Linked DNA regions of Homo sapiens. The protein of the gene in region 1 interacts with the protein of each later gene in a pairwise test. Each region holds a gene or a part of one and is shown in the gene's direction. Other genes may lie near its edges.

Evidence for each region.
Region 2: the proteins of TTC23 (region 1) and CREBZF interact in binary tests that used the Homo sapiens proteins (3 or more experiments, as listed by UniProt).
Region 3: the proteins of TTC23 (region 1) and ZFHX3 interact in binary tests that used the Homo sapiens proteins (3 or more experiments, as listed by UniProt).

Annotation. Positions count from the first base shown.
Region 1 is NC_000015.10:99,155,542-99,162,586, reverse strand, and holds part of TTC23 (tetratricopeptide repeat protein 23), read left to right. Parts: intron 1-719; coding exon 720-847; intron 848-6,289; coding exon 6,290-6,439; intron 6,440-7,045. UniProt on the Homo sapiens protein: Participates positively in the ciliary Hedgehog (Hh) signaling.
Region 2 is NC_000011.10:85,657,487-85,661,852, reverse strand, and holds the end of CREBZF (CREB/ATF bZIP transcription factor), read left to right. Parts: 3' UTR 1-3,863; downstream 3,864-4,366.
Region 3 is NC_000016.10:72,954,126-72,961,170, reverse strand, and holds part of ZFHX3 (zinc finger homeobox protein 3), read left to right. Parts: exon of another isoform or gene 1-976; 5' UTR 977-1,025; coding exon 1,026-3,744; intron 3,745-3,768; exon of another isoform or gene 3,769-3,924; coding exon of another isoform or gene 3,925-3,991; intron 3,992-7,045.

The DNA of each region.
Region 1 (7,045 bases):
ATCCCTAGTCCTGCTCAGGCTTAGAAAACCCCAGTACTAGTAGATGGACCTTTTTTCTAATATGCTTACGGGCCATTCAACCTCAGCTCCCGCTCACTTCTCTGGCTTTTAGTTCTCTCGTCATTTTCCATACCTGAGGTTTTCTTTTTCTTGCATTCAAGATTGGCATGCATTTAAAAATATTTGTGTTATATTATAACCAGTATGTTGAAGTATTTGGAATGATTGGGGTTTTGAATGATTTCTTCCCTCAGCGGCATGTCAGCAATATTTTCCAGATTTTTCATGTTTTAGAAATATGTACCAAGATTATACTCCAAATCCATCAAAATAAGTGAACTTTCAGAGTCCTACCCTCAGTAAAGTCATAGTTACCCTATAACTAAAGTTATAGGAAGAATTAGTGGTTGATCAACCTGAAAACTTACCAGTGTGTTCAGATGTGGGGCATAGTTTCTTCTTTTGCAGTAACTTTTCTTTATGTATCACCGGGAAAGCTAGATGTATGAAAATTAAAGAAAGTAAATTACGGTATCCTTCAAGACCTAAATCCTTTCTAATGAAACAGGCAGATTAATGGGCAAAGGACAGTCTTAACTGTTTTTTCTTGTCCCAATACCTCTTTCCAAATAGCTCAACACTGCTAACAGTATATTTATTCTGTTTCCATTTCAAATCTGTGAGCAGTTTTCAAAGTTATGATAAATGCTTTTCTTCAGATGTAGCTGAGCAGTATTTTCAAGAGAGCATGGCTCATCTTAAGGATTCTGAAGGGATGGGAAGAACCAAATTTCTTTCAATTCAAGATGAATTTTGCCATTTTCTACAAATGACTGGACAAAAAGAGGTAAGTGAGTTTGGATCACAATTGTCTAGTTATTCACAGTTGATATCCAAAGGGCAACTCCTTTACTCTGCAAGCATCCATTAAGCATCTACTGTGTGCAAAGCATGTGCCAGTCTCTAGAGGGACACATAAATAAGGCTAGGGCTCCTTTGGGGCAGCTTCCAGAGATACTTGCTCTTAGAAGCTGGGAGACTTTATGAGAATATAGATTGTCATGCCCACCTACAAAAGATCCTAAAGAAATAGTGGACAGGCCCTGCTTATTGAAGTCCTGCAGATCTGGCTGGAATAGTGTGGCAGTTAGTGTGTCTAATCCCTCTCTCCTCAGTTTGGGTAATGAATGGAGTTTGCATGTCTAAGGAAAACTATACGGTGCAGAAGTTACAGCTCAGTTGTTTAGTATTGATTCGTACAAGCGTGATTTACGTGGCTTATGAAAATAGAGCAAGACCCAGACCTTATATTCATTGGGAATTAAACCCTTGGGAATGCATTCCCTGCAAAGCCTAACATACCATTGCTTTATGTTTTTATATATGTGTGTGTGTGTACATATTAATACATATATATATATACAATCGCCCACAGATAGGAACAATTATATATATGTGTGTGCATATATATGTATATATGTATGTGTGCATGTATGCCCACACCCTCTTCTCAGCGCACCTAAGTCCTGTTTACTTTTCACTCCTCTCCGTTAAGTTTTTTTTTTTTTTTTTTTGAGACAGAGTCTTGCTCTGTCACCCAAGCTGGAGTGCAGTGGTGCAATCTCAGCTCACTGCAACCTCCGCCTCCTGGGTTCAAGCAATTTTCTGCCTCAGCCCCCCGAGTAGCTGGGATTACAGGCCCCCGCCACCATGCCCAGCTAATTTTTTTGTATTTTTAGTAGAGTTGGGGTTTCACCATTTGGCTAGGCTGATCTTGAACTCCTGACCCCGTGATCCGCCCGCCTCAGCCTCCCAAAGTGCTGGGATTACAGGCGTGAGCCACTGCGCCCGGCCTCTGTTAAGCTTTTCTTATCAGAGGTTAACGCCATCTCAATTTCCTAGAAAACCATACATACATACATATATACACACTCACACACATATATATATAGTTGTTCCTCAGTATCTGTGGGGGATTGGTTCCAGAGCCCCCAAGGATATCAAACTCCAAGGATGCTCAAGCCCTTGTACAAAATGGTGTCACATTTGTATATAACCTAGACAAAGCCTCCTGAATACTTTATATCATCTCTAGATTGCTTATAATACCTAATACAATGTAAATGCTATGGTAGTAGTTGTTACACTGTATTTTTTATTTGTATTGTTTTTATTGTTGTATTGTTATTTTTATTGTTTTTTCCCATATAATTTTTGATCTATGGATATGGAGGGCTGACTATGTATTTTTTTCAACTCTAACCTATCATGGCAAATCTTGGAAATGAAAAACTTTATTTCCCTTACCGTCTGTAGACCTCCTCCCCCACAGCTCTTTTCTCATCCTTAATCCCCCCTCCACCCCCGCCTTCTGTCAGCTAGGGAACACGGGCTTTTATGCCGATATACCTATGTTTCTCAGGCCAAAGTAGGGCCACAATCACCAGGACAAATTGGAGTTTCAGGATGTTTCTCAGTCACCCAACCCCAGGGAGAGAGAGGGGCCTTCCAGGGGCCTCAGACTCCCTCCCCATTCCCCCCTCACATCTCTAGAAGACAAGGGGAGTGCTCAGGTCAGAATAATGGGGTAGGTTTGCCCCCTCATGCCCCACTCCATCTAGTTCCTCAGCCATTTTTTCCTCCAAAATAGATCTTGAATGCATCCATTGTTTTCCATCTTTAGTCCTGCCACTCATCATCTCTTGCCTGGACCGCTCTAACAAGTTCCTATCTCTCAGCTGCTTTTTCCATGCTTGCCCTCTTCTAATCCACTCAGAATAAGGAAGCCATGGTGATGTTTCCAAAAAGCAGATCTGACCACTGAACACTCACTTGTAAAAGCCAGTCCACTGGCTCCCCGATGCCCTCAGGATAAACCAGAATCCTGACATGGCCCACAGTACCGTCCACGACCTGGACTCCACTGACATTTCCAGGCTCATTTTTGCCTCCTCTCCCTGATCCATGTTCCTGCCACACTGGCCTTTTCTAATTCCCACTTCCGGGCAGTGCCAGCTTCTGTTTCCTCCTCCTGGAAGGCCCTTCCTCATTCATCTCCAGGCCAATGCTAACCCATTCTTCATTTCTTACCAGCTTCTCTGATTCCTCTCCCCAGGCTTCATTAGATACTCCCCATTATTCTTCCTTAGAGAATCCATTTGATGTCATCAAATATTTGTAAGTATATATTCATGTGGATATTTAACATCTATCTTGCAACTAGACCGAACCTGTGAAAGCAGAGACCCTCTTGCCTGTGGTGAGGAGTGATGAGCAGAGAGGTGGATGCATGTTTGGCCACAGGCCAGCTGACTGTTCTGACTCCTGTGGGCCATGCATCAGTTCCCCTGTACTGCCTGGCTTCCCACCATAGTGTCTTGCTGAGTCAGCCAATGCTCAGTGTCACTGATGCTATGCCTCACTGCCCTTGCCCAAGTCACCCAGATCAGTGTTGATCAAAAGATGCACCTCACTCTCCTAAGCTGCCCTCGAAGATTTTAGCAAACTGGCTCTTTTCATTCTAGGGCCACTGCCAGCCCATCCAATGCCCTTATCATAATAGAAAAAGCTGCCCCTTCCTCAGGTAGATACCGCCCATGTTGGAGAGGACCATAGGCTGGATTTCAGCCCTCCCCATGCTCCTGCCAGGCACCCTTGTGTGTGGCACCACCTGCCCAGCCAAACATGGCAGTCTCATGCTGTTCTCACCATTTGGTTGCAAACCTCTCACTGTGGGTTCTAGCAGGTGTTGGCCAACAAGGGCCGGGCCCAGGGACAGTCCCGGAGCCAAGAATGGGGCTGTGCTCAGGCCATCCCAGGTGTTCCCACAGCACATGGCCATGGGCACTGTGGAACATGATATTTGAGGGATGAAATGCCTTTTAAGGTAAAATGTAAGTGAAGGTCACTCTGCCACAGGTTAAGCTACTCCGTGAGGGTTTGTCTTCTAGTTGTGCCACTCTTTTGCTCAAGAATCTTCTGTGACTTCCTCAGCCTGGCCACTCACTGGCCCTCAACAGGCCATGTGTTCCTCCTGTGCTCCCAGTGGCCCATACCCTCTTCTCATCCCACCTAAGTCCTCTTTACTCTTCACTCCTCTCTCTTAAGCTTTTCCTAGCAGAGGTTGATACTATCTCAGTTTCCTAGAAACCCGTGCCATTTAACTTCCTTCACATCTCCCCGTTTCCGCAGTCAGGCTGTAGGCGGCATCCAAAGCTTTATCTGGGAAAGGGAGTCTCCCCGGGTCTTCTCCCCATCACTGGCTCCTCTAAGTCTGACAGTGATATTTTCCCACAGAAATATCACCAAACCCAGCACTCTCAGCAGTCCAAGTCCTTGCTCTCAGAACTTGGGAGATGTGATGGGCTTTACCCTCAGGCAAGTCTAGATTTAAATTCTAGTCCCTCATGTACCTCAGTGGGGCCTCACTGCTGAGTTACACAATCACTCTGCCTCTACAGAGATTCCTCTTTCACCTGAGAAATTTATTTCTGCCTCATCAGCACCTGTAATGTGGTTCCCCTACCCCGGCCCTATCCCCTAACTTGTATTATTGCCAACAAAAGGATTAAACGCCCTCCTTGTCCTTCTGTTTGTGGAGCACTTTTGGGACCCCTTTGGGGCTGTGTCATGAGGAAGCTCCCATGGTCCCTGCTGTATTTGCCAGTTAAATTCAGCATCCATGCTCTGCAGCTGATGTCGTGCCTTCATGTGGAAGATCGTGGAAGAATTTCTGGAGAAAGTATGGAGGATTGACATACTTTAACAGGGTTTCCCCCTGCATATTTTGGTGTCTGAAGAAGCTAATATCAGGAAATACTATGTCCTGACCAATTCATAATTTTTATTCCATGTTAGTATAAATAAATTGGATAAACCAAACAAAATGTCATGTCATGTTGGAATGTTTACTTTCAGTTTCCTAAACGATTTCCTATGAGAATAGCCAAGCCTGGAGTGTGTTCAGGATGTTCTATACATAGATAATTTGCCCAGGAATGCTATATTTTCACTTCTGTAAGAATAGCATTGTGGACAGAGGGAGAAAAGCATGGGACTAAAATGTATGAAAATTAGACTGGGCATTGTGGCTCGCGCCTGTAATCCCAGCACTTTGGGATGCCAAGGTGGGTGGATCACTTGAGGTCAGGAGTTCAAGACCAGTCTGGCCAACATGGTGAAACCCTGTCTCTACTAAAAATACAAAAATTAGCTGGGTATGGTGGTGGGCGCCTGCAATCCCAGCTACTTGGGAGGATGAGGCAGGAGAATCGCTTGAACCTGGGAGGCAGAGGTTGCAGAGAGCTGAGATCATGCCACTGCACTCCAGGCTGGTAGACAAAGAGAGACTCTGTCTAAAAAAAAAAAAAAAAAAACCTCCAGATTTCCACCTGCTGTTGTAAAATGGAAGATCTGCTGAGACGGTGAGACGGATTTAAAAAAAAAAAAAAAAAAAGGTATGAAGATCACTGGCTGGATTCAGATCCTAGCACCACCACAGCTGAGCCCTCTGACTCTGAGCAAGTTTCTTAACTGCCGTGCCTGTTTCCTCCTCTGCCTAATGAGGATTAAAATTTTACCCATCTAAAGAAGACAGCAAAAATTAAATGAGACCCACACAATTGTGTGTGTTCAGCACAATTAGTGACATGTGAGGACTGATCCATGTCAGCTTTTGTTCTTACTACTCAACTGAAATGGATTCCTGTAATGGCTGAGTGGGTTTATTTTGCCAGGTGTCCTCTCTCTTCATAGTTTACACCTTTCCTCACATTCGTGTTGTTTCCTGACTCTTGTTCAACCAGAGGTGATATGATTTGGCTGTGTCCCCACCCAAATCTCGTCTTGAATTATAGTTCCTATAATACCCATGTGTCATGGTAGGGACCCTGTGGGAGGTGATTGAACCATGGGTGCGGTTACCCCCATGCCGTTCTTGCGATAGTGACTGAATTCTCACAAGATCTGATGGTTTTATAAGGGGCTTTGCCCCCTTTGCTCAGCACTTATCTCTCCTGCTGCCCTATGAAAGAGGTGCCCTCTGCCATGATTGTAAGTTTTCTGAGGCCTCCCCACCCATGTGGAACTGTGAGTCAATTAAACTTCTTGGCTTTATAAATTACCCAGTCTCAGGTATCTCTTCATAGCAGCATGAGAATGGACTAATACAAGAGGAGAACAGGCTCAGCTCGTGAGACTACCACACCCATGTGAAAATGTTACAAGTTGCGTAATGATCCTAATCAGCCTTTGAGCTTGTTAACCAGATAGCTTTTTGTTCCTTTCACAGAGAGCAACCTCGATCCTGAGAGAGTCCCTGGAAGCCAAAGTGGAAGCATTTGGCGATTTCAGTCCCGAGGTGGCAGAGACATACCGGCTCCTGGGAGGAGCAGACCTGGCGCAGGGGAACCACAGTGGGGCCCGCAAGAAACTGAAGAAGGTAAAGCTGGAACCAGTACTAACACGAGACTAGGCTCTCCCTCCCCTCTCCAAGGTCAATTTCTCTCCCTTGTGGTGGTTCTTTTAAATGAAACTTTAGAAGTGGCTTGTTTAGATAGGATGACATCACTTTTGTGGTAGATCTAACCTGATACTTTTTGGGTAAAAGACATAGTAAGCCTCTTAGACATACATATTTTTTAAATGAATTATCAGTTTTTACTATGCAAATATTTTTAATTTTTTACGTAGTACAATTGATCAGTCCTTTATGTTTGCGGTGCTCTCTCTATACTGAGTTTATAGAGGAATTCTCTTACACTTTCTTCAATTGTCATTCTTCTTTAAATTTGGAGTTTATTTGTGTGGATGGCATGAGGAATGGATCTAATCTTACCTTTTTTCCAAATGGCCACCCAGTTGTCCAGCACCATTTAATTAGAGAGCCCATCTATGCTCCAGTGACTTCAGATAACACCTTCATCATATACTGATTTTCCTTATGGACTTAAGTCTATTTCTAGATTTCTCTTCTCTTCCACTAGTCTTTCTGTTTATTCATGTGTCAATATTTCAGTTTTAATTACAGAGATTTTATAGAATGATT
Region 2 (4,366 bases), on another chromosome or scaffold:
TAATACTTGAACATTTTGTATATATTTCTTTGTATATAATTTTGTGCAGTACCAATGACAAAAATATGGTGTCATAATAAAACCAGGTTTGTTGATCTTTTAGTTATGGGCTCAAAGAATTTATTCATCTCTAACATGATATTGGAAAATAATGGATGAAAATAGGAAAAATGATTGTTAATGCTGACTGTGGGTCTTAAAAGGTTCTGGAAAGCAGTAAGTTCATTTTTCTAAAAACTATAACATTCTGTTGGAGTATTTTCTTCCTTACGTCAATACTTTTCCTGCATTATTTGAAATTGTGGGCTGGGGAGAAACAGTAGTCAAAGCTTTCTGAATTGAGATACTTTGAAATTCCAAGTGTAGATTTTTAGAATGTCATTTTATAAATGGCAGTTTTTGGAATTACTTGATAAGAACTTTTGAAAATGGAAGGATTAGTATGGCCTATTTTTAAAGCTGCTTTGTTAGGTTCCTTATGTTTTATTAACTGTCTTTTCTCAGTTTCCATTTCATTTTTTTTTTTCTAGTTTTGGTGACTTAGTGATTTTGTCATTTTTTACATCAACTTCATGGTCTTGTTTTTACATGGTAATTGCATGTACTTAGGATCTATCTAATAGGGGCTTTAAATAAATTTGGTCATATTTATGTGTAAGCACATTTTACTGTAAATGTTTGGGTTTCTGAATTTAAACAGATCTGTTTATTTCAGTATGTAGTAAACAATATCTTAAAGTGTCCGATTCACTACTTGTTAATTAAAAAAGTTATGATTAATGTGAAACTGTTGTCTTACTATTTTTAGAAAATTGTGTTCTGGATGATTAGCACATGGATAAAGGAGATTTCTGGAATATAAAATGGATTGTTTTTGAAATTTCTAGGTTTGGCTCTATTTACTGTAATGGTTGAAAACAATTTAGTATTTGGGTGACCCTTTTGTTTTTCTTCTAAATGTGCCTCTGGTAAAATACAGAACTAGACTAAAGATGTAGCTTTTTAATATTTGTCTTTTGATGGTGGCAGGAGTTCATACATTAATTGAACTAACACATCATATTTTGACCTACTATTTCTATCATATTGACTTACTGTTTCTGCACTTCTTTGACCAGACTTATCTTAAAAAGTCCACTTTTGTTAAAATGTAGTCACACCTCTGATATAATCCAACAAGAAGTGTTCAAAATATTTTAAATATTTGTGCATTTTATAATCACTAAATTAATCTCTCTCTCTTCTCTTTGAACAGCTTAGCAGTGTCTGCAAAAACGAATCTTTTCCTACAACCTGTTAACTGACTGGACTGTTGGTAACAAAGTAATTGTGAGAACCATGTCGGTCAAAAATTTGGCATCTGCTGAAAAAAATGAATGCCATTTTCAAGTTCCCAAATTACTTCTATACTGATTTCACTTTCCAGAAATGGAGATATGAAAAGATTCTCTGGAATCCTTGAAAGACTTAATAGAGATACATGAGACTAAGTTAATCTTGGAACAAAATTATACTTTTTTTGTCTTTCATGGGAGTGATACTCAGTTATTGCATATCTTTACAAAATTGTAACCTTTGGAGAATTACAGTATTTCATCAAGAAATTAGAGTTTTTACATAATCAAGAGCATATTCTATGGAATTAACATTTAGTGGACTAGAATTACATAAGCAGGCCATCAGTGATCACAAGGCATATGAGTTTGTATTTATTTCCTGGAACATGAGAGCTAATTTGGAGTACAGACAGACACCCTGCTGAGTAGAATATAAAAGTTAATGTAAAGTTCTGAACTATAAAGAGTAGTCCTTTTAAATAGATGCATTGATTTGTATATCTTTGAAAAAGTTGATTATGATTAAATGTGTGGGTAGTTAATTACAATTTAGGGTAACAACCAGGATGTATGGATTCTTGAGGTTTTGGCTTCTTGAGCTTTCTCTTGAGTACTTGATACTGTTTTCTGAATATTTTGAGGTTTCTAATTAATGGTATGCTAGTTTCTACTGTTTTATATAAAAATTTATCTAGTGTTGTATAAGGACTTTAGTATTGTGGATGATGGGAGTGGCTTTTTGTGGCATATGGTTGTTTTAATTGAAATATTTTTTCAGTTTATTACAAGTGTGAAAAAACACTCAAAACTCTGGATTGTTTTATTTCATTTTTGTTGGATTATGTTAATACATTCCTTCACGTGGTTTAGATTGAGTCATTTTATCTCACTTACTTGGAAATGTGCAGCTGATAGAAGAGGGATTGGGTAGGAGATTGGCTTTTACTTCATAATAAATATACAGTTGGTTATTGTATTATTCAAAACTTATTAAATCCATTCAGTTTCTTACCATTTTAAGTGTATTCAGTGCCTGTGAAGCCAGGCAGCAGAGTATTCCCACTGGCTTAAAACTTAGGCGCTGATGCTCCTACAGTACAGCTAGTTATAATTCCAGAACCAAAGGCACCAACATTATTTGGTGACCTTAACTACTACTTTGATAGAACAGACTGGGTAATTCACTGATAATGAGTCATTACCTTTTTAATATGTGATTATCTAGTTCAGCATTTTGAATGTGTAGTTTAAGGTCTGATTTAGTAAAATTTTAAAGCTAAATAATCTGATGACTCTTGAAAGTTTAATTGGTAGTATGACATTTATGTTTTTTTCCCCCAGACTCACAGCCAATACAAAGTTTTGAGACTCCTAAATGTTAATATTTTTGCTGTTTTTCTGAGCTGTTTTTTTATTTACTTACCACCTAAGCTGCGGATCAAAAAGGGAATTCTTCCATTAGAAATTTGTAGTGTTGTGTGGCCAGCACAGTATTTTTCAGATTTGAATTTCAGTACCTCTGTGTAGCCTCAGTACTCTCAACACCAGTCACTCTTTATTGTCTTAAAATATTCCATACTTTTTGTTGACCCAAAATTGTTGAAAATATTTTGCTCAGTTTTCACAATGAACTAATTGAAAAGTGTAGTTACTGTGTTGTAAACATTTGTGTAGTTCTGTTAATACACTGATTTGAATTTTATTTATCTCAACTTCCTTTAGCGTCTGCCTCCAAATTTTGTCTTTGCTGTATACCCACTGAGATCAATTCCCTAGACCCCTCTGGCTCTTAGTGTACTATAATTTGGGCTTTATAAAATATATTGTCTTAATTTAAATAGAATGTGAGCCCTCTTTTTTTTTTTTTAAGCCAAATAACTACACAAAGTAAATTATAAAAGATTTAAATAGTTTGTCTACAGTGACTAGACTGAAATATAAAAATTGATTGAGGGTAGTTTACTTCAGGTGTTAGCTACAAATGACTAAATGTCCTTAAATAATGCAGATATCTGCCCTCTGAACAAAAATTTTGGCAAAGTAAATTTGTAGCAACAGACTTAACATGATTTATTGCTTATGTTGCCCATTTCTGCTAATGGAAAAGATAATTTAAAAATATGTGGCAGAGGACAGATATTAGAAATACTTTTTGGTTACAGAAACCATTGTAAACTCATCCTCATTTATAAATGGTATTATGCTAGGGAGTAATTGGACTAGGAATGTTTAAAGATAAGTAAGGAAACAATGTGTGCTCAATCGTCAAAGAACTTAGTTATATCATTGGGCTTTGAATTATCTAAGTTGATTACATAATTCTATATTCTTAAGGAGTCTTAACTCGGTACTTGGGTTAACGCCAGAAATTACTTTTAATTCATTGTTTTTTTCACTGGGATGAGTAGAACTCTGCTTTTAGTAAAAGTGACAGAATATAGGTAAAATGGATGATTTGGGATCAGAGCTTTTCATCTTGATATTTTAGCCTGTAAAATAAACAGCTATATTGTTTTGCCCTTTAAATGTTATATATATTTTTCTGTCTTTCTTTCCCTAGTTGTAAAAGTAAAGCATATTCTTTATAGAAAACTTGGAATATCCTGAAAGGAATCAAGAAGAAAAGAAAAATCACCCTTATAACTCTATAAGCCATAGAATATCCACAGTAAACATTTTGGCATGCTTCCTTTCAGTCTCTTGTGCACATAGATTCTTTTGCCTCATAACTGGGATCATTTTTTATATAAGTTTGGTAGATAATATATTTTATGTGCCTGTTGAAAGAACAAATCATCTTTGCTTTCTGAAAAATTGAGATTGTATTTTATTAATTTCACATGAGTTTTTCATCTTTGGCAGCACAGCTTTATGTTTTTCTTTAAACAGAAGCTAAAGGCCAGTTTCACTCACAAAGATGCCTTTTCTAAATTATAATTTTAAGTAGCATAAGATGACTTAACAGATATGTCACTATTTGGAAGTAATAATTAAGAGATTCATGAATAATCTTGGATGCCACTTAAAAT
Region 3 (7,045 bases), on another chromosome or scaffold:
CACCAGGCACGTGGGGAACGCACTCCCTCCAGCCAGGGCCAGATAGAAGCTGCTGGAGGGGGTGTTGGCAGATCCAGAGTCTGGTCCATTCCTGCTGGAAATACCAAGCTCACGTTTTGCACCTACGTAGTTTTAGTCTGAAGTCAGCTAGAGTCACAGGCCAGGGAGCTTGACTGGTATGGGTGGAGGAGACAGGAATCTGGGGACCCATCTTTTCTTCTGTTTCATGGTGGTGAGATTAGCACTGAGCCAGTTTTTAGATTGAAGCCCCTCTGTTTTACTGCTTGTAAAATGGGACTGACGCCTCCCAGATCTGGAGAGGACTTTTCGGAGTGTGTCTAGTCCTGTACACCTGCCCTGTGAACCTCAGGGTCCTCACCCGCCTTCTTTGAACTTCTCAAACTAGAACCATGGTCAGTAAAAGCGACGGCTGCAATTGTTCTAAATCCATGAGCGTTATCCCACTTTACCGTCCTTTTTCCAGGGACATTGAACCTCCCTCTTCTCAGCCCTCCCCTGTGTTCCCCTGACCCACAGACAGTGCGCGGAGTCGGGGCTGACTTCGTGTGAGCTGTCCATAAGTGGTAGGGCTGTGGCTGTGACCTCGTAGAGGGCTGGAGAGATGACGCGTCCGTTCTCCACTGTGGCCCATCGAAGCTATGCTGGCAAAGAATGGAAATTCCCGCTAGTCTTCAGGGGCAGAGCGGTGACAATTCGAAGCCGAAGAGGGCTGTTCCTGGCCTTCTTTCCCCATATCCCTCGCTCAGGCTGTTGACCCGGCCATGCCACCCCTGTGTGCTGGACCGTGTGGGGCAGTGTCCCCAGGCCCGCCCTCCGCCCTGTGTCTCTGTGTTGTGGACAGAAGCCTCTTAGAGCGCTCCGTGCGGTAGGACCTCAGCCTCGGCCCTCCTAACCTCTTTCCTTTCTCTCTCTCTTTCCCCTCTCTCCCTCCTCCCCCCTTGCCTCTGCCCTTCAGGTCCGAGCCTCCGTACTGGGTGCAATGAAAGCTCCACGCAGGCCTTACCATGGAAGGCTGTGACTCGCCCGTCGTCTCGGGGAAGGACAATGGGTGCGGTATCCCTCAGCACCAGCAATGGACTGAACTCAACAGCACCCACCTCCCTGACAAACCCAGTAGCATGGAGCAGTCCACAGGCGAGAGCCACGGGCCCTTGGACAGCCTGAGGGCCCCCTTCAATGAGCGCCTCGCGGAGAGCACCGCGTCGGCCGGGCCCCCCTCCGAGCCCGCCAGCAAGGAGGTCACCTGCAACGAATGTTCGGCCTCCTTTGCCAGCCTCCAGACCTACATGGAGCACCACTGCCCCAGCGCGCGCCCCCCGCCACCCCTGAGAGAGGAGAGCGCCAGCGACACCGGTGAGGAGGGGGACGAGGAGAGTGACGTGGAGAACCTGGCCGGGGAGATCGTCTACCAGCCGGACGGCTCCGCGTACATTGTGGAGAGCCTGAGCCAGCTGACCCAGGGCGGGGGCGCCTGTGGGAGTGGCAGTGGCAGTGGGCCTCTCCCCTCGCTTTTCCTGAACTCTCTCCCTGGCGCGGGGGGCAAGCAAGGGGACCCTTCGTGTGCTGCACCCGTGTACCCGCAGATCATCAACACTTTCCACATAGCCTCATCCTTCGGGAAATGGTTTGAGGGCCCAGACCAGGCTTTCCCGAATACCTCAGCCCTGGCGGGGCTCAGCCCCGTCCTGCACAGCTTCCGCGTGTTTGACGTGCGACACAAAAGCAACAAGGATTACCTGAACAGCGACGGTTCTGCCAAAAGCTCCTGCGTATCCAAAGATGTTCCCAACAATGTGGACCTGTCCAAATTCGATGGCTTTGTGCTCTATGGCAAGAGGAAGCCCATCCTGATGTGTTTCTTGTGCAAACTCTCCTTTGGGTACGTCCGTTCGTTTGTGACCCACGCGGTGCATGACCATCGAATGACCCTGAGCGAAGACGAGCGGAAAATTCTTAGCAATAAGAACATCTCCGCTATCATCCAAGGGATCGGCAAAGACAAGGAACCCCTTGTAAGTTTTCTGGAACCAAAAAACAAAAACTTTCAACACCCTTTAGTTTCCACAGCTAACCTCATAGGCCCCGGACACAGTTTTTATGGTAAATTTAGTGGCATTCGAATGGAAGGGGAGGAAGCTCTCCCAGCGGGCTCCGCCGCTGGCCCCGAGCAGCCCCAGGCTGGTCTCTTGACCCCCAGCACCCTGTTGAACCTTGGCGGGCTCACCAGCTCGGTACTGAAGACCCCCATTACCTCAGTCCCCCTGGGGCCTCTGGCTTCCAGTCCTACCAAATCCTCAGAGGGCAAGGACTCTGGGGCGGCAGAAGGAGAGAAGCAGGAAGTGGGCGACGGGGATTGCTTCTCTGAGAAGGTAGAGCCAGCCGAAGAGGAGGCGGAGGAGGAAGAGGAGGAGGAAGAGGCGGAGGAGGAGGAGGAAGAAGAGGAGGAGGAAGAAGAGGAGGAGGAAGACGAGGGTTGCAAAGGACTCTTTCCAAGCGAGTTGGATGAGGAACTGGAGGACAGGCCCCATGAGGAGCCTGGGGCCGCAGCAGGTAGTAGCAGCAAAAAGGACCTTGCTCTCTCAAACCAAAGCATTTCTAACTCCCCCTTAATGCCTAACGTGCTCCAGACCCTGTCGAGGGGCACAGCTTCTACTAGTTCTAATTCTGCTTCTTCCTTTGTTGTCTTTGATGGTGCGAACAGGAGGAATCGTTTAAGCTTTAACAGTGAGGGCGTCAGGGCCAATGTGGCAGAGGGCGGCAGGAGGCTGGACTTCGCTGACGAAAGTGCCAATAAAGACAATGCCACAGCACCAGAACCAAATGAAAGCACAGAGGGTGACGATGGGGGCTTCGTTCCCCATCACCAGCACGCTGGCTCCCTCTGCGAGCTTGGGGTTGGGGAGTGCCCCTCGGGGAGTGGCGTGGAGTGCCCCAAATGCGACACGGTCCTGGGCTCCTCCCGCTCGCTGGGCGGCCACATGACCATGATGCATTCTCGTAACTCGTGTAAGACACTCAAGTGCCCCAAGTGCAACTGGCACTATAAGTACCAGCAGACCCTGGAGGCACACATGAAGGAGAAGCACCCGGAGCCGGGGGGCTCCTGTGTCTACTGCAAAAGCGGGCAGCCCCACCCCCGGCTGGCACGAGGCGAGAGCTACACGTGTGGTTACAAGCCTTTCCGCTGCGAGGTGTGTAACTACTCCACAACTACCAAAGGCAACCTCAGTATTCATATGCAGTCTGACAAGCATCTCAACAACATGCAGAACCTGCAGAATGGAGGGGGGGAGCAGGTCTTCAGCCACACTGCCGGGGCGGCGGCGGCGGCGGTGGCTGCGGCGGCGGCGGCAGCCAATATCAGTAGCTCCTGCGGGGCCCCCTCGCCGACCAAACCAAAAACCAAACCCACCTGGCGGTGCGAGGTGTGTGATTATGAGACCAACGTGGCCAGGAACCTCCGCATTCACATGACCAGTGAGAAGCACATGCATAACATGATGTTACTGCAACAGAACATGACCCAGATCCAACACAACCGCCACCTGGGCCTCGGCAGCCTGCCCTCACCCGCCGAGGCCGAGCTCTACCAATACTACCTGGCCCAGAACATGAACCTGCCCAACCTGAAGATGGACAGTGCTGCCTCGGACGCCCAGTTCATGATGAGCGGATTCCAGCTGGATCCCGCCGGGCCCATGGCCGCCATGACGCCTGCTCTAGGTGAGGATGACTACGTGTTTGTCTGTTTTCATGATAGGAGTTTAACCAGGGAGAATGGTGAATAGGGTGAGATAGTCCTGTGGATTCAGTTGACTCTGGTCTTCTCGAGTGGTTTTTGTGTAAACTGGAGTGTCTTACAATCAAGTATTCTCAAGAATCCCTTGAACTGTGTGTGTACATATGGAAGAGTTTATGCATTCAAAAGAGATATGCTTGTACTCTGGCTACGTGGGGCCAGGATTAAAATGTGAGTGTTTCCTCTAGTTTTCTGTTCCCATTCTCTCTTTCTCTGTCTCTTCTTTCAATTTGAAAAATCACTATAATCACCTAAAACTTTGGGGTTTCATCGAATATTTACTGAAACTTACAGGAAACTGTAGCTGAGGCAATCATTTCAATAAGAGGACTAGGGACAGTTACCTCAATGATTTAAGTAGAGACAATCATCTTAATAATAGGAATTCGGAACCACAGTGTACGTTATTCAGATAACTAAAGGCTGATTCTGTGCCGAGCTAGGGAACCATCCAGATAGACTTCTCAAAGTTCTCTGTATATTTATGAGGACCTCAATGAAAGAGATGTTTTTTTTTTTGCTTATTTTTGATGAGTACTTGGTGATTAGAATAGTTGGAAATTAATTGGGAATTAAATTCCCCAGTGGCACTGTTGTGAGGGGTGTGAGAGATGAAAAATGAGTAAGTTGTAAAAATTGTCCATCAAGGAAAGTTAACTTTTAATAGCAGTTAGATCCTGGTTAGCGGAGCCTTCGCTGCCAGGAAGAATGACCTCTGCTTTAGAGAAGCTGATTTGGCTCTGTTCAGGCTCCCAGTCTTACCAATTGGCTTACAATATCTAGAATAGGACCAAGAGTGTAGGATTTGGGTGCTAAAAACTTTGAGTTTTTACGTAGAACGAACCACAGCCACTTTGAGGATAGCTGCTGCTGCCAAAACAATCTACAGATGGGTTTCATGAGAACCTTCTGATAGTTGGGCCACTCGTGCCTCCACCCGGTATGCTTCAAACAGGATCCTGCCTGCGTCCCATCCCGTGACGCTGCTAATGGACTTCGTGGGACCAGTGACAATGGCCTGAATTAAGCAATATGCCATTATTGACATGGGAATAGGTTGTTCTTGGCAACAGAGTGTCAGTGAGGACTTTTTTTCCAGGATGGCTTAGATGACTGCAGGGCCAGGCCTCAGCAGTTGGCAAGTGTTTATTTGTGTGGTGTTTGAGTGCTAATTGTTGCCGATGAGTTATATTTCAAAGCATTCCATTGGTTTTTCTTGCTATGTATTCAGTTTTTAATCCTTAGTACTTTAATCTCATTTTCCATTTTGAAATATTTGCCTGTTGATCCTTTATTACCAAATGATTTGAGGGTATTTGAAACCAACTGGCTAATTGTGGATGCACAAGCACTGGTCGTCTTATTTGTCACCAGGGTGAACCATGCACACCAGGAGATGGGAGTGAGTACTCTAAGGTTTTCTTTAAGCCAGTAGGAATTAGAAGGAGTCATAGAATCTCGGGAGGTAGATCTTGGAGCAAATCAAACATAACGGAGGTGGAATGAAGACAGAACGTGGGAACGTGGGTAGGTTCATGTTGGGTCAAAGTGAGGGTTTTTTTTTTTTTTTTTTTGAGACAGAGTCTCGCTCTGTCACCCAGGCTGGAGTGAGTGGTGCCGTCTCGGCTCACTGCAACATCCACCTCCTGTGTTCAAGCGATTCTCCTGCCAGAGCCTCCCAAGTAGCTGGGATTACAGGCACCCGCCACCATGCCTGGCTAATTTTGTGTTTTTAGTAGAGATGGGGCTTCACCATCTTGGCCAGGCTGGTCTCAAACCCTTGACCTCAGGTGATCTGCCCGCCTTGGCCTCCCAAAGTGCTGGGATTACAGGCATGAGCCACTGTGCCCAGCCTAAAGTGAGGCTTTTTAATTACCTTAAGAACAGGTAACTAAGGCTTGTATTGAGAAGTAGAGAAATATTTCGCTTTCACACCAAGTGTCTGTGAGTCTTTGGGGCATCATGCACTGTCCTGGGCATTGCGGCAGATTCAGAAGGAGCAGAAGAATGAAGCCCTGTGTTGTAGACACACATGGAAGGGCCACACCATATTTCTTAGACTGGAGCTCTTCCTCCCAAAGGATTTATCCAGCTCAGTCACAAAGGGCTCTTGAATTTCCAGTGTCACTACTTGTCGGCCACGGGGAGTCCCTGGAAACCTGTGCCTTCCTTGGGCCGCGAAAACTGCTGAGAAGGTGTGAGAGCCACAAATCCTTTATGCCAGAAGCTCGAGTGGGTGTGGGGGCCATAGGAAGTGTCCAAAAGACTTGGAATTTGAGTTGTATGACCTCAGTAGGAGAAACCAACTTATGCAAATAAAAACAGCCATAACTTTCAGTTCTAGCTGTGGCTGTACTGGTTTTTTTTCCCCATGGTCCATTTATAAGATGGCTGTAGGTGTTATTAGATGTGACTGAGTTCTGCAGGGAGAAAAATGTTTTTGTGAAATACACTCCTCTTTACAAGGTGATTGTTTTCATACTTCCCTTGGCAGAGCCCTCTTTAGTATCATCAAACAGACACTGATTGTGGGGTTGCTTCTTTTCAGAAGCCTTTGAGGAAAGGCTTGGGGCTCCTTCGCCTAGTACAGTCGGATCTGCTGCTCTTTGTAGACAGCACATTAGATTTGAGGCCTTGTGAACATCCTCCCAAACCTTCCTTTCGACTCTGAAGTTTAGCATAGCACCAAGAAAGGGGTTGCTTGTCGGGGTGGCTGTGTGTTTCCCAAGTAGCCAGCCAGCCCCTGGACACCTGCACAAGGTTTAGCAGCTCCCTTCGTCTCCCTTTCATTCCAGAGTGTGCCTTTGAATCCATGCACCTTCCTGAGGATGTGCTGATGGGTGGGCTCACGTGTCAAGGTGTCAGTTCCAGTGTTAGAGTTAGGTGCATACCCAGAGATGGGGACCTGCTCCAAGACCACGTATCCAGTGTGGCTCAAGACTAAGGACCTGCCAAGTTCTTTTTTTCATTTCTTTTTTTTGAGATGGAGTTTCACTCTTGTCGCCCAGGCTGGAGTGCAATAGCGCAGTCTCGGCTCACTGCAGCCCCTGCCTCCCGGGTTCAAGCAATTCTTCTGCCTCTGCCTTCCGAGTAGCTGGGATTACAGGCATGCGCCACCATGCCTAGCTAATTTTTGTGTGTTCAGTAGAGACAGGATTTCACCACATTGGCCAGGCTGGTCTTGAACTCCTGACCTCAGGTGATCTGCCCACCTTGGCCTCCCAA